Linked DNA regions of Homo sapiens. The protein of the gene in region 3 interacts with the protein of the main gene of each other region in a pairwise test. Each region holds a gene or a part of one and is shown on either strand. Other genes may lie near its edges.

Evidence for each region.
Region 1: the proteins of SAXO1 (region 3) and SORBS3 interact in binary tests that used the Homo sapiens proteins (3 or more experiments, as listed by UniProt).
Region 2: the proteins of SAXO1 (region 3) and MAPK9 interact in binary tests that used the Homo sapiens proteins (3 or more experiments, as listed by UniProt).

What each region holds. Positions count from the first base shown.
Region 1 is NC_000008.11:22,554,880-22,558,532, reverse strand, and holds part of SORBS3 (vinexin), read right to left. Parts: coding exon 3,553-3,653; intron 1,819-3,552; coding exon 1,625-1,818; intron 405-1,624; coding exon 341-404; intron 1-340. UniProt on the Homo sapiens protein: Vinexin alpha isoform promotes up-regulation of actin stress fiber formation. Vinexin beta isoform plays a role in cell spreading and enhances the activation of JNK/SAPK in response to EGF stimulation by using its third SH3 domain.
Region 2 is NC_000005.10:180,282,083-180,285,735, reverse strand, and holds part of MAPK9 (mitogen-activated protein kinase 9), read left to right. Parts: intron 1-3,653. UniProt on the Homo sapiens protein: Serine/threonine-protein kinase involved in various processes such as cell proliferation, differentiation, migration, transformation and programmed cell death.
Region 3 is NC_000009.12:18,949,615-18,953,267, reverse strand, and holds part of SAXO1 (stabilizer of axonemal microtubules 1), read left to right. Parts: intron 1-2,330; coding exon 2,331-2,510; intron 2,511-3,653. UniProt on the Homo sapiens protein: May play a role in the regulation of cilium length. Stabilizes microtubules at low temperature.

The DNA.
Region 1 (3,653 bases), on a different chromosome or scaffold from region 3:
AAGCAATGCCTCCAGTAAGGGAATGACCGCTAACAGTGGCATTCCAGCTTGGCAGGGAAATCAGAGAGGGACTTAAGGAAAGGAATGGCTTCTCAGTCCCCTCAGAGGACACTGTGGGACAGTGGCTGGTCAATGTTCTTCTTGGGGATGCTCTGGAGACCGCTGCTGGCCCCGAGTACAGGGAGGGGACTGCCTATTTTCAGGACTACTCATTAGAGCCTGGGAGAAGGTGGAGAAGAACCCCTTGAGCAGCTAAGTCCCCTTTTCTTTCCCTGTCTCTCCAAGCCCCAGGGGCCAGAATCCACTTTGGCAGGGAGAGGGCCCTGGAAGGGTATCTTACCTGGCATTTTCCGGTGAATCTGCTGGAACATTCTCCGGTACCAGTCTCTGGGTCTGTCAACGCTCTGGGATCAGAAAATGCAAAGTCAGTCCTCCCTGCTTATTCACCCTCCCAATTTCAAGCCACAAAAATCTTTCCCTAGTGAGTCCCTTCTCTGGCCATCCCTGAACCCCCCATAGGTGGGCTGGGAAATGCTTCTCTTGCGATCTCTTTAATAACAATAGCTTCATGTAACACGTCCTATATAAGTAAGATATATGACAAGATCTCCATCGAAGTGTATGCAATAATGATGTTATGAGATTTGGGGCAATTTACATTTTTTCTCTTTGCTTTTCTTTATGTCTAGTGTTTCTACAAAGAACATTTTTCTTTTGTGGGGAGACAGGGTCTCCTGTGTCACACAGGCTGGAGTGCAGTGGCATGATCATAGCTCACTGCAGCCTCCAATTCCTGGGCTCAAGCAATCATCCTGCCTCAGCCTCCTGAGTAGCTGGAACTACAGTCGTGCACCACCTTGCCTAGCTAATTTTATTTTATTTTTTTTTTTATAGAGACAGGGTCTCACTATGTTGCCCAGGCTGGTCTGGAACTCTTGGTTTCAAGCAATCCTCCCGCCTTGACCTCCCAAAGTGCTGGGATTACAGGCGTGAGTCACTGCACCTGGGCCAAAAATGACAGCAATAATGTAGGAGTGAGATGCGTGTTTCACATCACCTGCTTCATCCAAGCCTCAAAACAGCCTCAAAACAGGAAGGGAATGTTACCAGCTCCAATTTCCAGATGAGAAAATGGAGCTGGCTCAAGACACAAAGGTGGATGGAAAAGGGCAGGGTATCCCCAGTCCTAACTGGACCCCCGGATCCTTCCACGCTTGCCACAGTGAGAGACCTTCTCACACAAGACTCACTCACTCATTCGGCCGGTCAGTCATTCATTCAGCAACCATTTCATGAGCGTCGTGACAGGCCCTGGGGATATGAAACTAAGAGAGGGTCCCCTGCAGCCTCAGGCCTTACAGCAGGGGTTCTCTACCTTTGAGGCCCTGATGAGAGTTCTAGATCTGTACCCCGCACAAACCACTTGAGCAACTCAGGCACACGAGGGTGTCTGCAGCTTTATGAGGTTTACAGCCGCTGAACCCCACCACGGTTGAACCCCTGCTTAATCTGGGATGGTTTGGGTGCGGCCTTTATTGCCCCACCCCCATTTTAATGCACAGAAGTGCAGCTCCCTGTAGATCCCTGGGCCCCATCTCTCCGTGGCCCCCAGCCCTGGACTCACGGATCGGGGGGCAATGGGCATGCCGCTCTCGTCCACGGGCCCGATTCCCTCGTACTTGACCCAGCGCTTGTCCCGACGCTTGCTGTCCTTGGTCCACGTGGCTGACCAGTTCTGGGTGTGCTGGGAGGCAGGGATCTTTGTGCTTGCAGAGGGCTTGCTCCCAGGGCCTGGCCAGGTCTGATACCACGCAGGGTCTGTTGGGTGCGTGCAGGAGAGCATTAGTGAAAGGCAGGGGTCTCCACCTGAACCTGTGTGTCCCTTAGCTCCTCAGAGCATGGATCTCTGTGGGTTCAAAGTTTCAACATCGCCTTGTTTGTTTGAGTGGATGACTCAGAGCACCACGGGCCTCTGTTTGTTTAAGTGAATTTAAATGGATTTGATCTTGAGAATGCCGTGCCTGGCCCTACCCCCATCCTTCTTTCCTGGGACTATCCTAAGTGCTTTCAGAATAAGGTCTGGAAATCATTACTTGTAGAGAATGCAGGGGACATCCCAGCTGGGGTGTGGCAGTAAAGATGCTGGGCTTAGAGGGGACAGACTTGAATTCAGACCCCAGCTCTACCACCTATTGGCTGCCATGGCCTGGGGTACATCAGTCACCTTCTCAGTGTCTCAGTTTCCACTTCTGTAAAACAAGGGTCATTGTGACAAGGATTCAGTGACATCTAGCGTGTGTGACTGTACCCAGCACAGTGCCTGGCACACAGTCGAGAGGCTCTCAGTGAAGGTCAGAAACCCATTCCCCAGACATGGTTGTGACTGAGTCCTCAACTTACCCATAAGTGTTAGCCTCTAAGTAGCTAGGGCAGCAGAATAAGGGCTTTGAGGCCAGATGTACAAGTGTGTGAATTGCAGCTCAGCCTCTATGGCTGAACATCTCTGCGAATGGGGTTCCTTACTGGGAAGCTGTCAGTCATCATCACCCCTACTTTGTCAGGATATCGAGGGGTTAAACGAGGTGAGCCTCGTAAAGTGTTTTTACAGTGTCCAGCACGCTCTGGGTGTTCCATAATTGTGTGGGTGTTTTTTTTGGTTTTGTTTTGTTTTTGTTTTTGTTTTGAGACAGTTTTGCTCTTGTTGCCCAGGCTGGAGTGCAGTGGCACGATCTCAGCTCACTGCAACCTCCACCTCCCAGGTTCAAGTGATTCTCCTGCCTCAACCTCCCAAGTAGCTGGGATTTCAGGCACCCGCCACCACACCCAGCAAATTTTTGTATTTTTATTAGAGATGGGGTTTCACCATGTTGGCCAGGCTGGTCTCGAACTCCTGACCTCAGGTCATCCACACACCTCAGCCTCTCAGTGTGTGTGTGTTTTAAGTGACAGGGTCTTGCTGTGTCATCCAGGCTGATAGAGACAGGGTCTTGCTATGTTGCCCAGGCTGGATAATTGTTAAATGAATAAATTCCTTTACACAGCACCTGTCTTAGGGGAATGCTTGATAAAGGATGTCACTTTAGGAGAGACATGTTCAGGGCTGGCCTGCACCCAGGAGTTCCCAGGACCTCTGGACTGGGATCTAGAACTGCCTCTCTAACCTCCTGCTGGGTAGCCTGTTGGGCCTGAATGGGACAGTCTCCACCCCTTCCCAAGCCAACAGATACCCACATCACCTCCACCCTTCCATCCCCAGTCCCTGTGGGAGGTCCTCCGGCGCCCAGGGCTCCTGCACGCTTCCTTTCCCTGGCACCAGGCTGGAGGGCAGGGGAAGGGATGCATCAGCCTGCTCTCCCCAAGCGGGTGTCTCTTGCAGAGTCAGCAGGCTCCGCAGGGAGGGGCTCATAGTGAGCCCAGAGGCCTCTGAGGAACCTCCTCATGGCCTTGAGAACCCCATCTCCAGCTGCTGCCCCTCCCGCTTGACACAGGGCAGTGCCAGATGGCAGGGCCCTGACCCTCCATCTCCAGCATGAGGCTCCTGAGCAGACCTACCCGGGTGCTGGGAAGCATCTCGTCTTGGTGTGTAGCCCCCATTGCACACAGTCCTGGGCGCGGGGTCGTGGAACTGGAAATTAAGGGTGTTGGAGCCACCA
Region 2 (3,653 bases), on a different chromosome or scaffold from region 3:
CCCAGGCTGGTCTGGAACTCTTGGGCTTAAGTGATCCTCCCACCTTCGGCCTCCCACAGTGCTGGGATTACAAGTGTGAGCCATCTTGCCCAGCTGGAAAACAGAACAATTTAATGAAAAAAATGTCGGCAGCAAGCATTGAGACAGAGGGTGATTGTGAGAATCTGCTTTTAATCACAATAGTTAGTTGATTTAAATATCGCATGTCCTGGGTACTCTGAAGCTTTAGTGTGATGAAAGGTTCACTTGAGTCTGTGGATCACTGAATCGTTGTCATCGTTAGAGGAAAAAGTGTTTTGGTAGGTTTTGGTAGGGGGAGTCAGCAAGGTGAAATGTGCAGGACTGTGTGCTGGTCCTGGCCAGCCCATGTGCAAATAGCTTCACTTTCTAAAGGGATATCAGAATGGTGCTTTGGGAGGAACTTGAATATTGTGGTGAAACACTCCTAAATTCAAATCTGAGCCATGCTGGGAATTTGGACAACTTCCTTACTGGACAACTTCCTCTAAGCCTCAGTTTCCTCATTTGCAGAGCGGGGATAGTAATATGCTTCTCACTAGTTGTTATAAGGGTGTTGATAAATGTGTACCTCAGAGCCAGGCCCACTCTCATGCCTCTAGCCTTATCTGCCTGAAGCCCGTCTTCCATACAAGTGTCAAATGATCATTCTGCAGCTTTTCATTTAACATGTGTTGTTTAATCAGTTTTTAAATGTGAAATATGTACATTTGAAAAACAGAATAGAAAGTTATAATGGGAAGAAAGTTTCTCATTTCCCACTATTTCTCTACTTGCCAGCATTGTGTATGTGCGTGTGTATGCGTGTGTGTGTGTTTACGTAGCTGGGCATTATGTGTTCTCTTCTTCAACTTGGTGTATTTCCTTTCTGTATCTTAGACATCTTTCCACATTGATACATAAAGTCCTTGCATTCTGTTGAATGGCCTTGTTGTACTTCTGTGCCATAATTTATTCAGTCCATCCACAGTGTGCATTTTAGATTACTTCTAGTTTTTTGCCTGTTACAAGAAGTGTTACAAACATGCTTGCACAAATATGTTTGGATACTTGTACACGTATTTGTCAGATACACTTAGAGAATTGTGTTTGCCAGTTTAGGATATGCAGTTAACATTTTTATTAGCCAGATCTATATTCCATCTAAAAAAATGTTTTACCACTTCTCAGCTCTCACTGACGTGTATGAAAGTGCCTGTTTCCTCATGCCTCGGTCGATACTGTGAACAAACTTGAGCTCAGGTCTTGCCTCCTCCAGGAAACCTCCTTGTAGCGTTCCCTCCCAGTTTTGAGTTGCTCATAGCCTGGAAGGGAGGCAGACCCTACAAAGGCTGTGACAGTGCAGCCTGGCGGGCGCTGCTGAGTGCACAAGTGGCAAGGAGGGAGCCCTGTGCTGGACGGATGGTGGCAGCACAGCCTGGGAGCTGAGGGGGAGGAACCAGCACCGGCTGGTGTGGGAAGTGGAGGCAGCGAATGCAGGCTTTAGTGTATTGCTAATGTGGTTTCATGAAGAATTCTTGTACTTCCCGATTTGTAAAACTGTTTTCTGAGCCCCAGTTGATGGTCCATTTTGTTGAAATATCATCTCAATAGAGTTGACTCATGAATAGCTAAATTACACACCTTCTCAGGTGGCCTTAAGTTTCTTTCTCTTGCTCTCACAAAGCCCAAACTTGACAGAGAAGGTGGCTTTAACAGGTTTTCACTTAGGTGACTTTTTTCTCCTGCATAATAAGGGTACCTTATTTTAATTTTATAATTATTTTAAATCTTTTTGTTTGTTTGTTTTTGAGATGGAGTCTCGCTGTGGCCCAGGCTGGAGTGGCACGATCTCAGCTCACTGCAATCTCCACCTCCCGGTTCAAATGATTCTCCTGCATCAGCCTCCCAAGTAGCTGGGATTACAGGCACGCACTACCACACCCGGCTAATTTTTGTATTTTTAGTAGAGATGGGGCTTCACCATGTTGGCCAGGCTGTTCTCAAACTCCTGACCTCAAGTGATTCCCCCACGTTGGCCTCCCAAAGTGCTGGGATTACAGGTGTGAGCCACCATGCCCGGACTATTTTAAATCTTGAGATGGAATTACAATTCTAAAACCTAATATGAGTGAATATACTCCCCAAATTTAAAAAAGTTAACCTAATATTGTCATAGTCCAAATATAGGTTGAAAGCAGTTATAGCAGGGAGAGTTGCAGAGTTGGTCAGCAGGGTTGAGATTGATCTGTCAGTCCCAACGTGGACACGGGGTCCTGAATGGGGGGTGGCTCTGTGCCATGAGGTAGTTAAGGAATCCAGCTGGTGGGCAGCTTTCCATCTACAGCATGTGACTTCCATCTCTGGGTCTGTGACAGCTGATCCCTCAGCCAGCAGCAAGGAAGAAAGATTGGAGGGCAAGCAGCTTTCTGTAAAGAAAAATAAAAGTGATCTGGAAGTTGCATACATCACTTCTACCCACATCTTATTAGTCAGAACTTGGTCATCTGGCCATACCTGGCTGCTGGGAAAGCTGCCAGGCGTCGTCTCTAGTTGGGCAGCCATTTATCTAGCAGGAAGGGGAAGGAAGGCTTCTCTTATGAAAGCGAGGAAGGGAGGGATGGATCCTGGAGCACCTCAGCGCCTGTGTCGCACCTCTGATGTTTTGACGGCTTCCACAGCCCTCAGGACTGAGGCCAGACGGCTCTGCGTGGCTTCTGGGGCTCATAGTGATCTGGCCTCCTTTTCTCTCTCCAGCTTCACTCGCCCTCTACCCAGCAAGTCCCTAGTGACTTGTCACATTCCGAATGTGCCTCCGCCTCTGCTGCTTCTCCTCCCATTCCCCCAAATCTTCTTCACCCTACTGGGTTTAGGACCCTTGGTGTGCAGGGCCTCCTCCTGAGTGTGCGCTCACTGAGGGCAGGCGAGTGTCCTGGCATGGTACCTCACCATCCACAGCGGGTGCTCAGTACATGCTTGCAAGTAACTGTGTTGCTGGTGTGTTGACGGCATAGCAGAGGAACAGCCACCCTCCGTAAAGCAGGTGGTAGTGGGTGCCTGCCTTTTTGCTGAGTTGTCTCTAATCCTTTGCACTTGTACCCCGCTAGCCAAGCTCAGCAGTTCGCTGTGTCTGGACACAGTCAGTTTGAGCTCTGTGGCTCTACTGTCCATCTCTGGCAAAAGAGTCTGAGGGCGGATGCCGCCTCCTCCTTGAAGCCGTCCTTGTCTTCTGCCCCTGCCAGTGGGTAGGATCTCTTTTGCCTTTTGATTTTGTTTACATTGTGCTTATGGCCCTTACCGCACTGTGACTTGTAATATAGATAATGGACTCACTGCTCGCGCTTCTCCCCCAAATAGTGAAGTACATGTTGTTTCAAGACTGGTTGCTAGCTGACTATGGCATATCTTTTGCTATACTTACCACTTTCGTGCATAAAGGTACCCCCTAAATGTTGAGTGGAATTGTTTCAGCCTCTTGCAAACTGTAAATAAGCTAATCTTTAGAAAGGATCTTCCTTTAGATATCAGTAAAATGGAGCAGCACTGTGGGGAATCAGATCAACAAAGGTTTATTGAATGCTCACAGTGCCCCAAAGACCAGCTTCCTGTCCTCCTGTCCTTGGAGTATGAGATGCCATGAGCAAGACAGACCTGCC
Region 3 (3,653 bases):
CTGAAAAGGGAAAGTAATCACTCTGCCTGTGGAGCCCATTTTATTATAAGTGCCTGAAACTAAGTTATCCTGAATAAAATCTTGACTTTTCTTTTAGAATGTGGGTGAATAAAATATACATGCAGAGGTATTTTTGGTAGCCAGTGCTTCTTGGCTTTCGATCTGAGGTTTGTCGGAATCCTAAAATGATAGGGTACTAGTTGGCTTAAATTGAAATCTCAGATAGTCGGACCGATTGTGAGCACAGAAATGGCAATAATATTTAACATGCATCCGCTGTGGGCGATGGGTCATTGGTTTACTATGCAAACATAACAATTTGTCTCTTGAATGTGCAGAAGATACTTTAAAGTTCTCAATTTATTTGCCAACAATTAGGAGATATTTTATTAAAGGGGTATAAAATAGAAATACATAGCTTTGTACACTAAGTGCCAAGAATGTGCATGCTGAAAAAGAAAAAGCACACTTTTCTTGATTGTATTTAACACTGTGAAATTTAGATATTTATACTATAAGGACAGCATATTTGTGGAAGATTTTCCTTGTACATGATGAGGAATATCTAAAATATTTACCATGAATCAATACTGCTTTTATAATACAAAGTAAATCAGGCAATTTCATGCCTTCTTAAGGCATTTCTGATAACAAATCTATAGGTGAGAAGAAAATAAGTAGGGATATCTCTAATGGTACTTGTTAATATGCAATTCTAGCCATATGAACAGTACAGGTGTTGATGATTTTCTCTGGAGAGTAGATGGACGAGATGTACATAGTAACAACAGTGGTGGCAGTAATATTTATATAAAAGGTTGAACTTACTAGCAGGAGCAGCATGCCAGCTGTTGCCTGGAAAATAGCTTTACATTAGAGCAGTGAGGAATTCTTGGTTTCTTTCTCTCATTTTATCTCCCTTCCCCCATGTACTTCCCCAAAGTATTGCATTTTAATTTCTGTGATGAAAAATCAGTCCAGTGTGAAAATGGGAAAACAATGCTATGCCATTCATGAAGGTAGCTAAGTTGGAAAACACCAGCATGGAGTTTTTGCTGATGTGCTGGTGCCTGATGATGAGAGGGACCCCAGCTGGATTGTGAAGATTGTGGGCACACACAAAATTGATAAAATGCCTTCACTTAGTTTTTGACAGCTTTAATAGCTGACTCAGTCCAGCTGTAAGTAGTAAGTAAATAAGTAAGTTTCATTTACTACCATGCAAGTAAAATGGAAAAGCTCACTATAAATTTTAACTGCTAAATACTATTTATCATTTGTTCAATTCATTCATCACTAGGTATAAAGTTTATTTAATTATTCACGTATACACTCAGTCTTTCATTCAATAAATATTTACCGAATGTGCCAGTATGCAGTAAACATTTACTGAATGAAAAATTTAGGATATGATATATAGAGATGTACATCATGTACGATGAACAGTGGACAAGGTTGAAAAATGTACAGTGTACACGTACAGTGTAGCAGTGAACAAGGTTGATAAAGGCCCTGAGCTTGACAGATGAGACAGACAATAAACAAACTTGCCAACAGACATGCCAGTCACAGGTAGCTATAAGTGATGGGACAGGCATACACAGGGTGATGGGAGAAAATATGTGCACACACAGGGAAGAGTAGTGGGGAGAGGGGATACGACGGCGAGGTGGATCCTGGGTATAAGATGATTGGCGGAAGTCTTTCTAAGGCTGTAATAACTGAGGTGAGACCTGAAAGAATAAATGAGGGAGACTTTCAATGTGAAAGTGGTTTCACATAGTCAGTGGTGTCTGGTGGACTCAGAACTAAGGTGATTTTGCTTTGAATGATGTCATTTGTGTACAGTGATGATATTCCGAGTTGACCCAGGAGCTAACCAGTTACAAAAGACACTGGCTGGCCCTATTGGAGAGCCTTGGAGCACCCTGTTAGGTCAGTAGTAAGCCCTGAATTCCTGGGCTGTTGTGAGACCTCAGGGGAGGACCTGGGGCAGCTGGGTGGCACTCGGAGAGCTTGGGGACACAGCCATTTCTCTATTATGGTATGGAAATATTTCCCTGCTTACACAAGCAATGTGGCATGTGTGACAGCTTGTGTGTAATTCTCTGATCCAAGGAATTTTTATTAACCAATTGTAGTTACAGACCACCTTTATATTCTGGCCACTTCACGTAGTTTAGTGGAAAAAAGTAACCGTTGAATTCTGGTTTTCAATGTTGGCAGTCACATGATTTTACAGTCTGAGTCACATTTGGCGGAAGTACTCTTAGGAAATTGGGTTTTTTTCTCCCAAGAAGGTAATCAACCTAACTCTGTGTCTTTTATAGGCGGCATCACTGTCCACATCTCCCTACCAAGATTTATGATAAAACAGAGAAACCATGTCTTCTCTCCGAATATACCGAGAACTACCCTTTCTATCACTCCTACCTGCCCAGAGAGTCCTTCAAGCCAAGGCGGGAGTACCAGAAAGGGCCTATACCAATGGAAGGCCTGACTACATCAAGGTGAGGGCAAACAGTATTAATGTATGCAGGTACATACAACACTAATGGAGTAACATGCAGTGCTAATGTATAATATTAATGTAATGTGCAGTGCTAATGCATTAATGTGCAGTATCAACATATGATATTAATGCCTTAATGTACTATATCTCTGAAGGAATATCCTGCATTTATGAGCCTTCTCAGTTTTTTCCAAATTCTCTGTTAAAGAGAAAGGATTCTTGCTTGCTGAAGTAAAGGGTGGGGAAAGGCTGGATTAATCTATATAATATAGGATTGGAGGTTAAGAAAAATATTTAAGGGATGGAAAGAGTGGGGGATGTTGCTGAAAAGCAAGTTTTGGGCTTTGTTACATGAAAAGCTCCAGGCCAGCTTGGGTAGGTGGGGGATGGTGGTGGTGGTGGTGAAAGGGAACTTGGCAATAGAGAAAAAATGAGCTTTTTTTTCTCCCCTTAAAATTATGCTGCTGTAAATTTTGAATTGGGGTTCTCCTGAATGTTCTTCAAGAAAGATGAACAAATAATGTTTTGCTTTTAAATTATTCTTGACTCCCAAACTAAGATTGTTTAGCTCTAGGTCTGTGCAGAGGCTGAGCCACATGGTTCAGTATATTAGCGTTGCAGAGGTGTTTCTACTGAGGGGGTGCAGAAAAGTTATCAGTTCAGGGTTGGTCTATAAGCAAGGCTCTTGCAGAATCTGCCATGGACAACTCAGTTAGTGACCTGTGACTGGTGATCTAGTAGAGTGGAAACATCTTTGAGTGCAGTTGGGCAGTCTCAGATTGTATAGTTTTGTCCTTAGCTGAGCCCTGAAAGATTGATGTGTTCTCTGCCTTCCCGGTTCCTCATCCCTAAAGGGCAGGGTTGCTGTGAGGTGGAGATGATGGTGAATGTTGACTGTTCCAGCACAATGCTTGCACATCGGTGCCTCAGACCTGGTGACTTTTCTTCCTATTGCTCCCTTTTGCTTCATGATTTTGTGCTAGTAAAGGTCCCAGATGGTCTAGGTGAAGCAGAACCATTCTAATTCATTCTGCCTTCAGGTTTTCTCCAGAATAGGACTGGAAACATCTGAGACTGTGAGTTGGAGGTGCTCTTCTCTACACAATGCTGCCATCTTCTAGATCCACGGGAAGTCCAGTCT